Linked DNA regions of Homo sapiens: region 1 is linked to region 2. The links come from fine-mapping of genetic effects on gene expression. A gene starts in region 2. The other region holds a variant in brackets. All regions are shown on one strand. Distances are between the middles of the regions.

Region 1 (5,372 bases), 110 kb before region 2:
TTCTTTATGTATTTATTTTAAAAGAAAGGTGAGGTCTCACCGTGTTGCCCAGGCTGGTCTTGAACTCCTGAGCTCAAGTGATCCTCCCACCTTGGCTTCCTAAAGTGCTAGGATTACAGGTGTGAGCCACCATGCCCAGCCCAGTTATTTCTTTTGAGAAGTGGGGAGAATGATACCTATCCCTCAGAGTCGTGGTGGGGCTAGGTGGAGGTTATGGAAGTGTAAGTTTTTTTTTTTTTTGAGACGGAGTCTTGCTTTGTTGCCCAGGCTGGAGTGTAATGGTGCAATCTCGGCTCACTGCAACCTCTGCCTCCCAGGTTCAAGCGATTCTCCTGCCTCAGCCTCCCGAGTAGCTGGGATTACAGGCCCACCATCCCCGGCTAATTTGTGTATTTTTAGTAGAGATGGGGTTTCACCATGTTGGCCAGGCTGGCCTTGAACTCCTGACCTCAGGTGATCCACCCACCTCGGCCTCCTCCCAAAGTGCAGGAATTACAGGCATGAGCCACCCCGGCCAGAAGTGATTTTTGAATCAGGAAGAGTTGTTATAATCTTAGCTTCAGACTAGAGTTCACAGGGAGGCCTCTTGTTCTGTGGGGAGGCTAGGGTGGAAGACCTGGGAAAGCAAGACAGGGCCCTAGAAGAATAAAGGTCTAGGGAGGTCACTAAGATAGGGGCTCTGACAAGGGGACATGACAAGCAGAGGGTGTAGTGGTGAGGCCAGTGTATCAGTTCACTTTTGCTGTGTAACAAACCATCGTGCTGTGTCGTGGCTTAAAACAACTGTGATTTAATTCCCCTGATTTTGTGGGTTGGTTGGGTGGTTCTTCTGGCCTGGGCTTGCTTAGCTGGGGCTGGGTGGTCCGGGATGGCCTCACTCACATGTCTGGTGTCTTAGCTGGGAAAACTGCAATGTCTGGGATGGCCAGACCCCTTTCCATGTGGTCTCTCATCCTCTAGGAGGGTCTCTCATCCTCAGCCACCTTCACATGGTAGTCTCACAAGCAAGGAAGGACAAGCCTCCAGTCACAAGCACTTTCTAAGCCTCTGCTCACATTTGATAATGGCCCATTGGCTAAAGCAAGTCACATCTGTCAAACCCAGATTAAAGAGTTCCTTTACTTTCTGACACACTACTCTCTGGGACATCTTTTAATTTAACTATTTAATTATGAACCAGGGCTTCAAATAGGAATTCCCTGTCTTTTGCCATGATCGGGGGGTTGGAGTGGAGGGCAGAGGGAAAACTTTTCAGTGAAATGACTGTGTAGTGTTTGCATTTGCAGCCTGCTACAGCTCTGGATTGGGAGCAAACAGAACAGAGTGCAGGCTGGTGCCACTATAAACTAGCTGTGTCTCCCACTTAAGCTTCTGGTCTACCATGAGCTTGAGCCCCTGCTTTGCTGAGGATAATTTTCAGAGCAGAATGAAATGAATGGCTACCACAGAAATTCAAATCACTCTTCTAGTTCTGGGCCATGTGTCACTTAACATGAAAAAGAAGAATAAGTCTTAGCAAAATAATAGTGAGTAAAAAAGCAGTAAGGGAAATAATTGTTCACTTAATGTTAAGTGAAAAAAAATCAGACCCCAGGGATGGATAAAATCATGATTCCCCCCTTTTTTTATGTCATAGAAAATACGGCCGGGTGCGGTGGCTCACGCCTGTAATCCCAGCACTTTGGGAGGCCGAGGTGGGTGGATCACCAGTTCAGGAGATCGAGACCATCCTGGCTAACATGGTGAAACCCCGTCTCTACTAAAATTACAAAAAATTAGCCAGGCGTGGTGGTGCATGCCTGTAGTCCCAGCTACTCGGGAGGCTGAGGCAGGAGAATGGTGTGAACCCGGGAGACGGAGGTTGCAGTGAGCCGAGATTGCGCCACTGCACTCCAGCCTGGGCAACAGAGTGAGACTCTGTCTCAAAAAAAAAAAAACAAAAAAAAAAACGCATTTGGACAGACACAATTCCCTTTTTATTAACTATATTCATTTCAGAATTTCAGAAGTATGTAGAATACATACAGACACATTACAACTCTTTAACTGGGAAGCCAGGGAATGACAAACACACTAAATCAAGATGGTGCTTTCAGCTGGGCATGGTGGCTCATGCCTGTAATCCCAGCACTTTGGGAGGCTGAGCCGGGCGGATCACCTGAGGTCTGGAGTTCAAGGCCAGCCTCACCAACATGGAGAAACCCCGTCTCTACTAAAAATACAAAATTAGCCGGGTGTGTTGGTGCATGCTGTAATCCCAGCTACTCGAGAGGCTAAGGCAGGAGAATCACTTGAACCCGGGAGGTGTAGGTTGCAGTGAGCCGAGATTGTGCCATTGCACTCCAGGCTGGGCGATAGAGCGAGACTCTGTCTCAAAAAAAAAAAAAAAAAAAAGATGGTGATTTCTGCAAGTGGGAAGGGTGAGTGGGGCATGTGGTTAGATGTAGGATATTGACAAGAGCTTTGTTTTTTAGTTTGGGTGGTGGGTTCTCTTAGATCCTTGTTATATCATTTAAAAAATCTAATTTAGGCCAGGTGTGGTGGCTCACGCCTGTAATTCCAGCACTTTGGGAGGCCGAGGCAGGCAGATCACCTGAGCTCAGGAGTTTGTGACTAGCCTGGGCAACATGGTGAAACCTCATCTCAACTGAAATATAAAAAATTAGCCAGGGGTGGTGGCGCGTGCCTGTAGTCCCAGCTGTT[C/T]GGGAGGTTGAAGCACAAGAATTTTTGAGCCCAGGAAGTGGAGGTTGCAGTGAGCCAAGATTGTGCCACTGCACTCCAATTTGGACTACAGAGTGAGACTCCGTCTAAAAAAAAAAAAAATTATTTGTTCAGCCTACTGAATTGTTGGTTTTGTATTTGAATGATTAAATGTTTAAAGTTTCCTCTGGGCTATGAGGTTGAGCTTGGAGAGCTGTGCTTTCATATCTGTGGGTATAAAACGTCCAGGGGTGGCCACAGGAGGAGGAATGGATTAGCCCATGGTGGGAATGTCATTAAGTCAAAGATAGGAGGTAAGCAGCTTAGGAGGCACCCTGGCTTCCCCCTTGATCACACACGTCTCCTCGGAAAACTTGTCCTCCATCCGTGGACCAGATAGTGCTAAAGTCAAAATGAGTGACTTCTCTAATGCTCACATCAGGACACCTGTGCCAGAGCTGGCTCCTGTTAACCCAAAAGAGCCATGCAAGGGTTGCCATGGTGAGATTGTTGCTGCCTGAGTGCCATTGTTTATTCTTGACACTCAGTTATTTGGGCTTTGATTCCAACATTGTCCTAGGCACAGGGTAACAGAGCCAGAGCTGGGACGCCTCCCTCACTCTGGGGCTCCATAGGCTGGGCCAAGCTAAATGACTGAAAGTCACATAGGGGTCTGTGGAAGACCAGCCCTCTGGGGCTTGTTCCTTTCCCCAAATGCTACTCCTCTGCCCCATCAGTTGTCTGTTTCCCCAGTAGGTTGTGGATGTCAGTCTAAAATGCTGCCCACCCGGCAGAGGATGGTATGGGAGGCTGTGGGGCCATGTGGGGTGCTGTTCCCTGGCCTGTTTGGGAAAAGAGAAGGCAGAAAGCATCTAACCTTTATTGAGCACCTGCTGTCTGCCAGGCACTATGTCCATCTCACCAAATCCTCACAGCAGTCTTATGAAGTATTACTCAAATCTCACCATCTCATGGCTAAACAAATTTTCTATTATGAAAAAATTTAAGAATATATCCTGAACCTCCATCACCTAGCACCCCACTTCAACATTCAACAAGTCATGCATAATCTTGTTTCATCCACACCTTTACCAGCTTCCCTCTCTCCTCCATTGTTTTGGAGTACATCTCAGCCATAATAGATTGTATCTGCAAGTGTTTCATTGTGTATATAAACTCCTGGGCTCAACTGAAAAGGATTCTTTAAAGCTACACTACTATTGTCACACCTAAAAAAAAAATCAAACAATAGTTTTCTTTTGAATTTTTTTAATTAAAAAAATTTTAAAAAATAGAGATGGGGTCTTGCTGTCTTGAACTCCTGGGCTCAAGTGATCCTCCTGCCTTGGCCTCCCAAAGTGCTGGGATTACAGGTGTGAGCCATTGTGCCCTGCCATGAATTTTTAATAAATGGTATTGGAACATCTGGATAGTCATTTTGAAAGATATCAAAGTGTATTTATTCCTCACATCATATATCAGAATAAACTCCAAGCGGATCAGAGATCTCTATGTGAAAATATAAATCATACACGTCCTAGAAGAAAACAAGGCTCTGTATATGGGAAAAGCCCTCCCTTAAAAAAAAAACAAAAAAACAAAAAACTATGCCTCAAAATTCAGATGCATGAAAGATTATTAAATTCACCCACATTAAAAAATTTGTTTTTTGAGCCAGGGTCTTGCTCTGTCACTCAGGCTGGAGTGCAGTAGTGCAAACAGTGCTCACTGCAGCCTCAATCTCCTGGGTTCAAGTGATCCTTCCACCTCAGCCTCCCAAGTAAGAGTAGCAGGGACATCAGGTGCATGCCACCATGCATTAAAATGAGGATTAAAAATGCTCAGGTGAATTTTTAAAATATTTTGTAGCAACAGGGGCTTCCCATCTTACCCAGGCTGGTCTTGAGCTCCTGGGCTCAAGCAGTCCTTCCTCCTTGACCTCCCAAAGTGTTGGGATTGCAGGTGTGAACCACTGCACCTGACCTAAATTTTTTTTTTTTTTTTGCATGCAAAAACACCACAAGCAGAGTCAAAAGACAAGTGACAAACTGGGGGAAATCATTTACAAGAAATATCACAAAGGGCTAATTTTCCCAATAGAGAGAAAACATTTTTTAAAATAGGGAAAAGAATAAAAACCAAGACCTGACAGAAAAATTGGGAAAGACATGAGTAGACAGTTCACAGAAAAAGATATACAGATGGTCCTTAATCATATGGAGAGATGTTTGACTTTACTCATAATAAGCAAAATGCAAAGTAAGCCCCAATGAGAGATCATTTCTCCTCCATGTGATTGGCAGACATGCAAATGTTTGATCAACACTCTGGTGGTGAGCTTCAAGAAAATCCCTCATACAGTGCTAGCAGGAGAGCAAACTGGCCAAAGTCCCATGGAGGGGAATTTGTCAATATCTAAGAAAATTACGTATGTATTTGCTGCTTGACCCAGCAAGACTTCTAGGAATTTACATGGAAGATCTTCTCCACAGATATAGAATACTATGCCGGAGTCATTTACTGCAACATTATTTGCAATAGCAAAGTATTAGAAACAACCTAAATACCCATGGAGACTGGTTGAATAAATTACAGGAATCCAGTCATGCAATGGAGTCAAATGCAGTAATTAAAATAATAAGATGGGCATGGTGGTTCATGCCTGTAATCCC
Region 2 (5,359 bases):
GCAGCAAGAACAAATACCTGTAGTTTGCTCAATTTTAAAATGTGATTTGTGTGCGCCACTGGAGGTTTGGTATCAACAGTAGGCTTCGCTAGAGAAGGGGGATAAAAGGGAACAATGTTACATCACAGGAATTCCAGTAGCGGCCTCAGAAAACCAGCACTAGACAATGTCCTTGACTAATGAACAATTTCGAATTAGGACCTTAATGCGACTCAAGAAGTTTGGTTTGATTTATCAAATGAACATCTCTGGAGAGTTTTGAGCAGAAACAAAAGAATAGTGAAAATAAAATTTACAGAGATAAATGTCCTTCTAATCCAATGAAAGAGCTTCTCTTCCAATCTTTTTCCAATATTATTAGCCTGTCTATTGGCTTCTGAAGTCTTATCCCCTTTCTAACGTACTTCGGCTTTAAGGAGTTTAAAGGAGTATTTCCATCCAGTGAACTCCCTGGTGGAAGATACATTTTGTTATTGGTGCTAATGCCCTCTTCCCCAAACTCAGCAGATAAGGCCATATCATCCCAAAGCTGTGACCTGGTCTGGTTTCCTGTTGATCTCTTTATGGGGTACCATTCCAAAATCCCTAATAGCAGTGTCCAGCCCAAACTGCCCACATACCTATTTGTATTCTATTCTTGTGAGATACGTAGTGGCCAAAGTCCAGTTTCTTTCTGAAGGTTGTGCTTTGCCTGTGATTAGAGACGATAACAGGGTAGGCCAGATAATCCAGGGAATTGTTCATCTTCTCTTCCTAGTCTCACTTCAGAAATGAGGTACCCAGACTCCTCTGTGAGGTGCCTAGCTGTCCCCATGACAAGCTGTCATAGTTACCCAGTTATGACATCAGGGACAGGTCCCGGGAAGGGAGTAGGAGCAGCAGAGCATGGCTGGCTGCCTCTGGGCTTGTGTTTTTAATGCTAACCTCGGCTCAAGTCAAGATGAAGGTCAAGGAACTCGAAAGCTTTCCCCGCTGCTTAGAATGCAGATGCTGCCAGCCAACACCAGAAGGAAAGAAGTGGTGCACCGGGAGGGGTGGGCAGGCACGGGGTGGGGTGAGGGATACAGAAATTCCAGCCTTGGTTACACATCTTGGGCTATCAGCTAAGTAGTCTCCACTGCAATAGCTCCCCTGAAGGTGCAAGACCACAAGTTTTGGAGGAGGAGAAAGTTGACCCTAATGATAATCGGATCCAATTCCTTTTGCAAATGAGGAAACTGAAGACCACAGCAGCAGCAACGTTACTCAAGAACCAAGTTGGTGGCAGGGCTGGGCTCAGGATGTGGGGTTCCTGAATTCAAGGCCAAATTTGCCCTTTTGCAGGAAGGAAACTGCCAGTTTTTCATGGCAGTAGGGGAGGGCAGCTTTCCTCCAGTACAGAGACTATCTTTTGTACTTAGTGGGAGTTCAGGAAATGCTGAGTGGCTTATGGTGGGCTGGCATCTGCTCCAGGAAGGGCTGCAGGAGTCTGATTTATCTCCACCCCAGCACAGGGTATAGCACCCACTGGGTGCTCAACGCATTTGTTGATGAAGGACTAACACCTATTGAGTGCTCGCCATGCAGTGCTGGGTGCCTTCTTTGAATGTCACATTTAACCCTTCCAGCAACCCTAGAATTAGGTACCATTACTATCCCGCTTTTTTTTTTTTTCCCTGCAAACAGGCTCAGGTTAAGTAATTCCTCAGAATTCCAAACCTGACTGCTTTTAAGCACGACGATGACTCTCAATGAATGTTGAAAGCAGATGCGCCCCAGAGTAGGGCTTCTCAGACTTTGACCGTAGGGACCTCCTGGGGTCCGTAAAATGTCCACTCTGATCCAGCAGGGCTGGGCTGGGGCGGGGATTCTGTCAAGCGCCCGGGTGGTGCCTCCACTGCAGGGAGCCGCTCACGAGCCGAACCCGGCGGTCCCTGTAATCATGAAAGACTGAAGCGACCCCTAGGTGTACCTCCGCCACGAAATGTTTATTGGGCCCTGCATTTAATTCAGGGAAGGAAGTTACCGCGCTTGCCAGTTTACAAAGATACACAAACGGCCTGGACCGGGATGGGGCGAGGACCCCTGAGACTCCAGGGCGGTGGCGTCTTCCCCCCGGGACGCGCCCAGGAGTGGCGCGCGGGGCCCCCGCGTCACGGCGCCCGCGCTCCGCAGCTCCCGGAGCCCGGCGGGCCCGCCCCAGGGGCGGGACGGGGCGGCTCCCGGCGCGAGCCCCCGCCCAGCTGATCCGCCGCTCTCCGCCTCGCTTGCTCCTGCCGGGCGTGCAGGGCCCCGCCGCCGCCATGTCGGGCTCGTTCGAGCTCTCGGTGCAGGATCTCAACGACCTGCTCTCGGACGGCAGCGGCTGCTACAGCCTCCCGAGCCAGCCCTGCAACGAGGTCACCCCGCGGATCTACGTGGGCAACGCGTGAGTCCCTTTCGCGAGCCCGGCCCCGCCGTCCCTCTCGGGACGCCCCGCCCACCCGAGGCTGGGGTCGGGGTGTCGCGAGTCTTGGGTTGGGGGAGCCCGGGCGCGATGGCCCCTCCGGGAGCCACAGCGGGGGCTTGGGAGGGGCCTGGAGTCGACGCCTACCCCCGCGCGTGGGGCCAAGGAACTGGAACCCTGCCTGGCCGGGCGCGGCCCTTCCCCGTGGCGGGGTGCACGGAGCCCGGGTGGCGCCTGCCCGGGTCCCAGCCGCCACCCGCTTGGGGCTTGGCCTTGGGCGGGGTCGGGGCTACCATGTTCACTTAACAGGTGACCCTCGGTCGCCCGGCCGGTCTCCTGCCCGCGCGTCATGTGACAGCTGCCTGGTTCTGCAGTGAGGTCACCGCGGAATGTCTGCCTTCGCCGCCATGGCAACGGGCCGACGTCACAATTCGGGCATGGAATTTTCCCGGCCCGGCAGTCCCGGATCAGGGAACCTAAACACCCCAAATGAGCGAGTCCGGGGAGCTGGGCCGGGATTTCCAGGCCCCCACCTTCCAGATGTGATTTGATTTACAGGAGATTCTAGAACGGTCCAGTGATAACCCCCCTAAGGACCTGAGCCACCACCTAGAAAAGGCTCTTGACCTTTCACCCCCAGGCTCTGTCACCCAGGCTGGAGTGCAATGGCGAGATCTCGGCTCACTGCAACCTCTGCCTCCTGGGTTCAAGCAATTCTCCTGCCTCAGCCTCCCGAGTAGCTGGGATTACAGGCGCCCGCCACCACGCCTGGCTACTTTTTGTATTTTTAGTAGAGACGGGGTTTCACCATATTGGCCAGGCTGGTCTCTTGGCCAGGCTGGTCTCAAACTCCTGACCTCATGATCCGCCCACCTCGGCCTCCAAAAGTGCTGGGATTACAGGCGTGAGCCACCGCACCCGGACAGTAAGAGATTTTTTTTAATTTAAATTTTAAATTTTTTTTCTAGTAAGAATGTCTAATCAGCAGGAAAGAACCAGTGTTAACATTCTGAGATGTGAAATAGGAGCCTCAAGAAAGAATATATTAGCATGCCTGTACAGCCTTGGAAAGCCTCAAGTTGGATTTTCACGATACTCTGAGGACCCAGTTACCAAAATCCTAAGCTTCATGGCTCAGCCCAAGGATGGCATGTTGAAAACTCAAAACTAACCCTCCTCCCATTTTACAGAGGAGGAAATGGTGGCTCAGAGTGTGTGAGGGACTACAAGGACAGGGTCAATGTCTTGTTCATGTATGTATTTCCTGACCTCCGCTATGACCTGCTGTTTAGCCTGCCAAGGACTGCCACGGAAATGGGGGTCATCATGGAACTAGAAGGGGTCCATCAGGCCCCAGCCTCATGGGGACAGTTCTCATCCATTCCATCATTCATTCACCAGTCTGAGCACCTGCTTTATGTCAGGCACTGTACAATGTTCATTCATAGTAGAGATAGTAATAATGATAATTGTAAATTTTTTGAATGTTGAATTATTAATAGTATTAGAGGCCTGGCACGATGGCTCACGCCTGTAATCCCAGCACTTTGGGAGGCCGAGGCGGGTGGGTCACCTGAGGTCAGCAGTTCGAGACCAGCCTGACCAACATGGTGAAACCCTGTCTCTACTAAAAATACAAAAATTAGCTGGGCATGGTGCCTGGCGCCTGTGATCCCAGCTACTCCGGAGGCTGAGGCAGGAGAATCGTTTGAACACGGGAGGTGGAGGTTACAGTGAGCCAAGATCGTACCGTTGCACTCCAACTGGGCAACAAGAGCGAAACTCCATCTCAAAAAAAAAAAGTATTAGAGAAGGGAGATGAATGGGAGTGACTCTTCAAAGTGTTTTTTTCTATCAGCCACTGCTTCACAGTCTTGCGCGGTGTCCTAAGCAGGAATAAACAGAGTCCCACAGTGTCAGCCAAAGGCTTCAGGAATTGGAAAGCTCTAGAGACACCCTTCCTCTTGCACCAAGCAGCAAGCAGGCCTTGTTAGCCTCAGGAATCCCGCTTGCTTGGGCAGGTTGGCCATTCAGCTGTCATCACTTCCCAAGTGGAAACCAAGGTTGTACACGTCTGGTGTAGCCAGAGTGGCAATTGCTGATGGCCACTGTAGAAAATACATCCCTTGCCCTCTAAGCACCTCTGACCTTGACTTGGCCAGGGGTGTGGGGGTTCCTCAACAGGGAGGATCAGTGAGCACCAAGCACCAAGAGGATTTGGGCTCCATTCCCTTAACAAAATCAGGGCCGCAGCCACGTCCTCACAAGGCAGAGCCAGAGCCTGTGTGAGCCACATGTGCCAGGCCTTGGGGGTTTTGCAGCAGATGTGGGCATGAGGGGCAGAGTGAGGTGGAAGATAGAGCAGGGCTGGATGTCGGGAGAAAGGAGGTCTTCTCCCAGATCTGCCACCAGCAGCACACGGGGCCTGTGCCCATCCCTCTGCTCATCCTGTTGGGCCTGAGTTCAAGCTCTGTTAAGCAGGGATATTGCCATCCTTGTTCCTCACAGGGCTGCTCGCAGTGGGCAAGCAAGATCACACAGGAGGTGGCATTTTATAAAGTATAAACTGCTATTTGGACTGGGATGTTTTGTGAGATGAAATAAAGGGGCCTTTTCACCATTCAGACCAATTATTATTTTTATTTTATTTTATTTTATTTTTCGAGACGGAGTCTCACTCTGTCACCCAGGCTAGAGTGCAATAGCACAATCTCAGCACACTGCAACCTCCACCTCCCGGGTTCAAGTGATTCTCCTGTCTCAGCCTCTGTAATCCCAGAGTAGCTGGGATTACAGGCATGTACCACCACACCCGGCTCACTTTTGTATTTTTAGTAGAGACGGGGTTTCACCATGTTGGCCAGGCTGGTCCCGAACTCCTGACAGGTGATCCACCTGCCTCGGCTTCCCAGAGTGCTGGGATTACAGGTGTGA

Direction of the effects. Positions count from the first base shown, and alleles are read on the strand shown. Sizes are in standard deviations (SD) of each study's normalised expression.
For the expression in fibroblasts of the gene that starts at base 2,230 in region 2, T is the high allele of the variant in region 1 and C is the other (small effect, 0.32 SD a copy in GTEx).

The links. PIP is the estimated chance that this variant, and not a neighbour inherited with it, causes the effect. A credible set is the group of variants that fine-mapping cannot tell apart.
Region 1: its variant is the best candidate, but not a certain one, in a credible set for the expression of DUSP3 in fibroblasts (GTEx, PIP 0.54).

The regions. Positions count from the first base shown.
Region 1 is chr17:43,886,383-43,891,754 of GRCh38, reverse strand. The region is part of intron 3 of MPP2 (MAGUK p55 scaffold protein 2); the gene reads left to right. Among named protein-coding and RNA genes, the nearest start is that of MPP2, 18 kb to the left of the region's middle. The variant C/T (reference allele first, on the strand shown) is at 2,704.
Region 2 is chr17:43,775,848-43,781,206 of GRCh38, reverse strand. DUSP3 (dual specificity phosphatase 3) reads left to right here and starts at 2,230. Exons shown (of 3, transcript NM_004090.4): 1 at 2,230-2,407. The coding sequence starts at 2,283. CFAP97D1 (CFAP97 domain containing 1) reads right to left here and starts at 772. Exons shown (of 6, transcript NM_001136483.3): 1 at 621-772; 2 at 18-88. The coding sequence starts at 744. RefSeq lists a silencer at 2,050-2,739 and an enhancer at 2,672-2,966.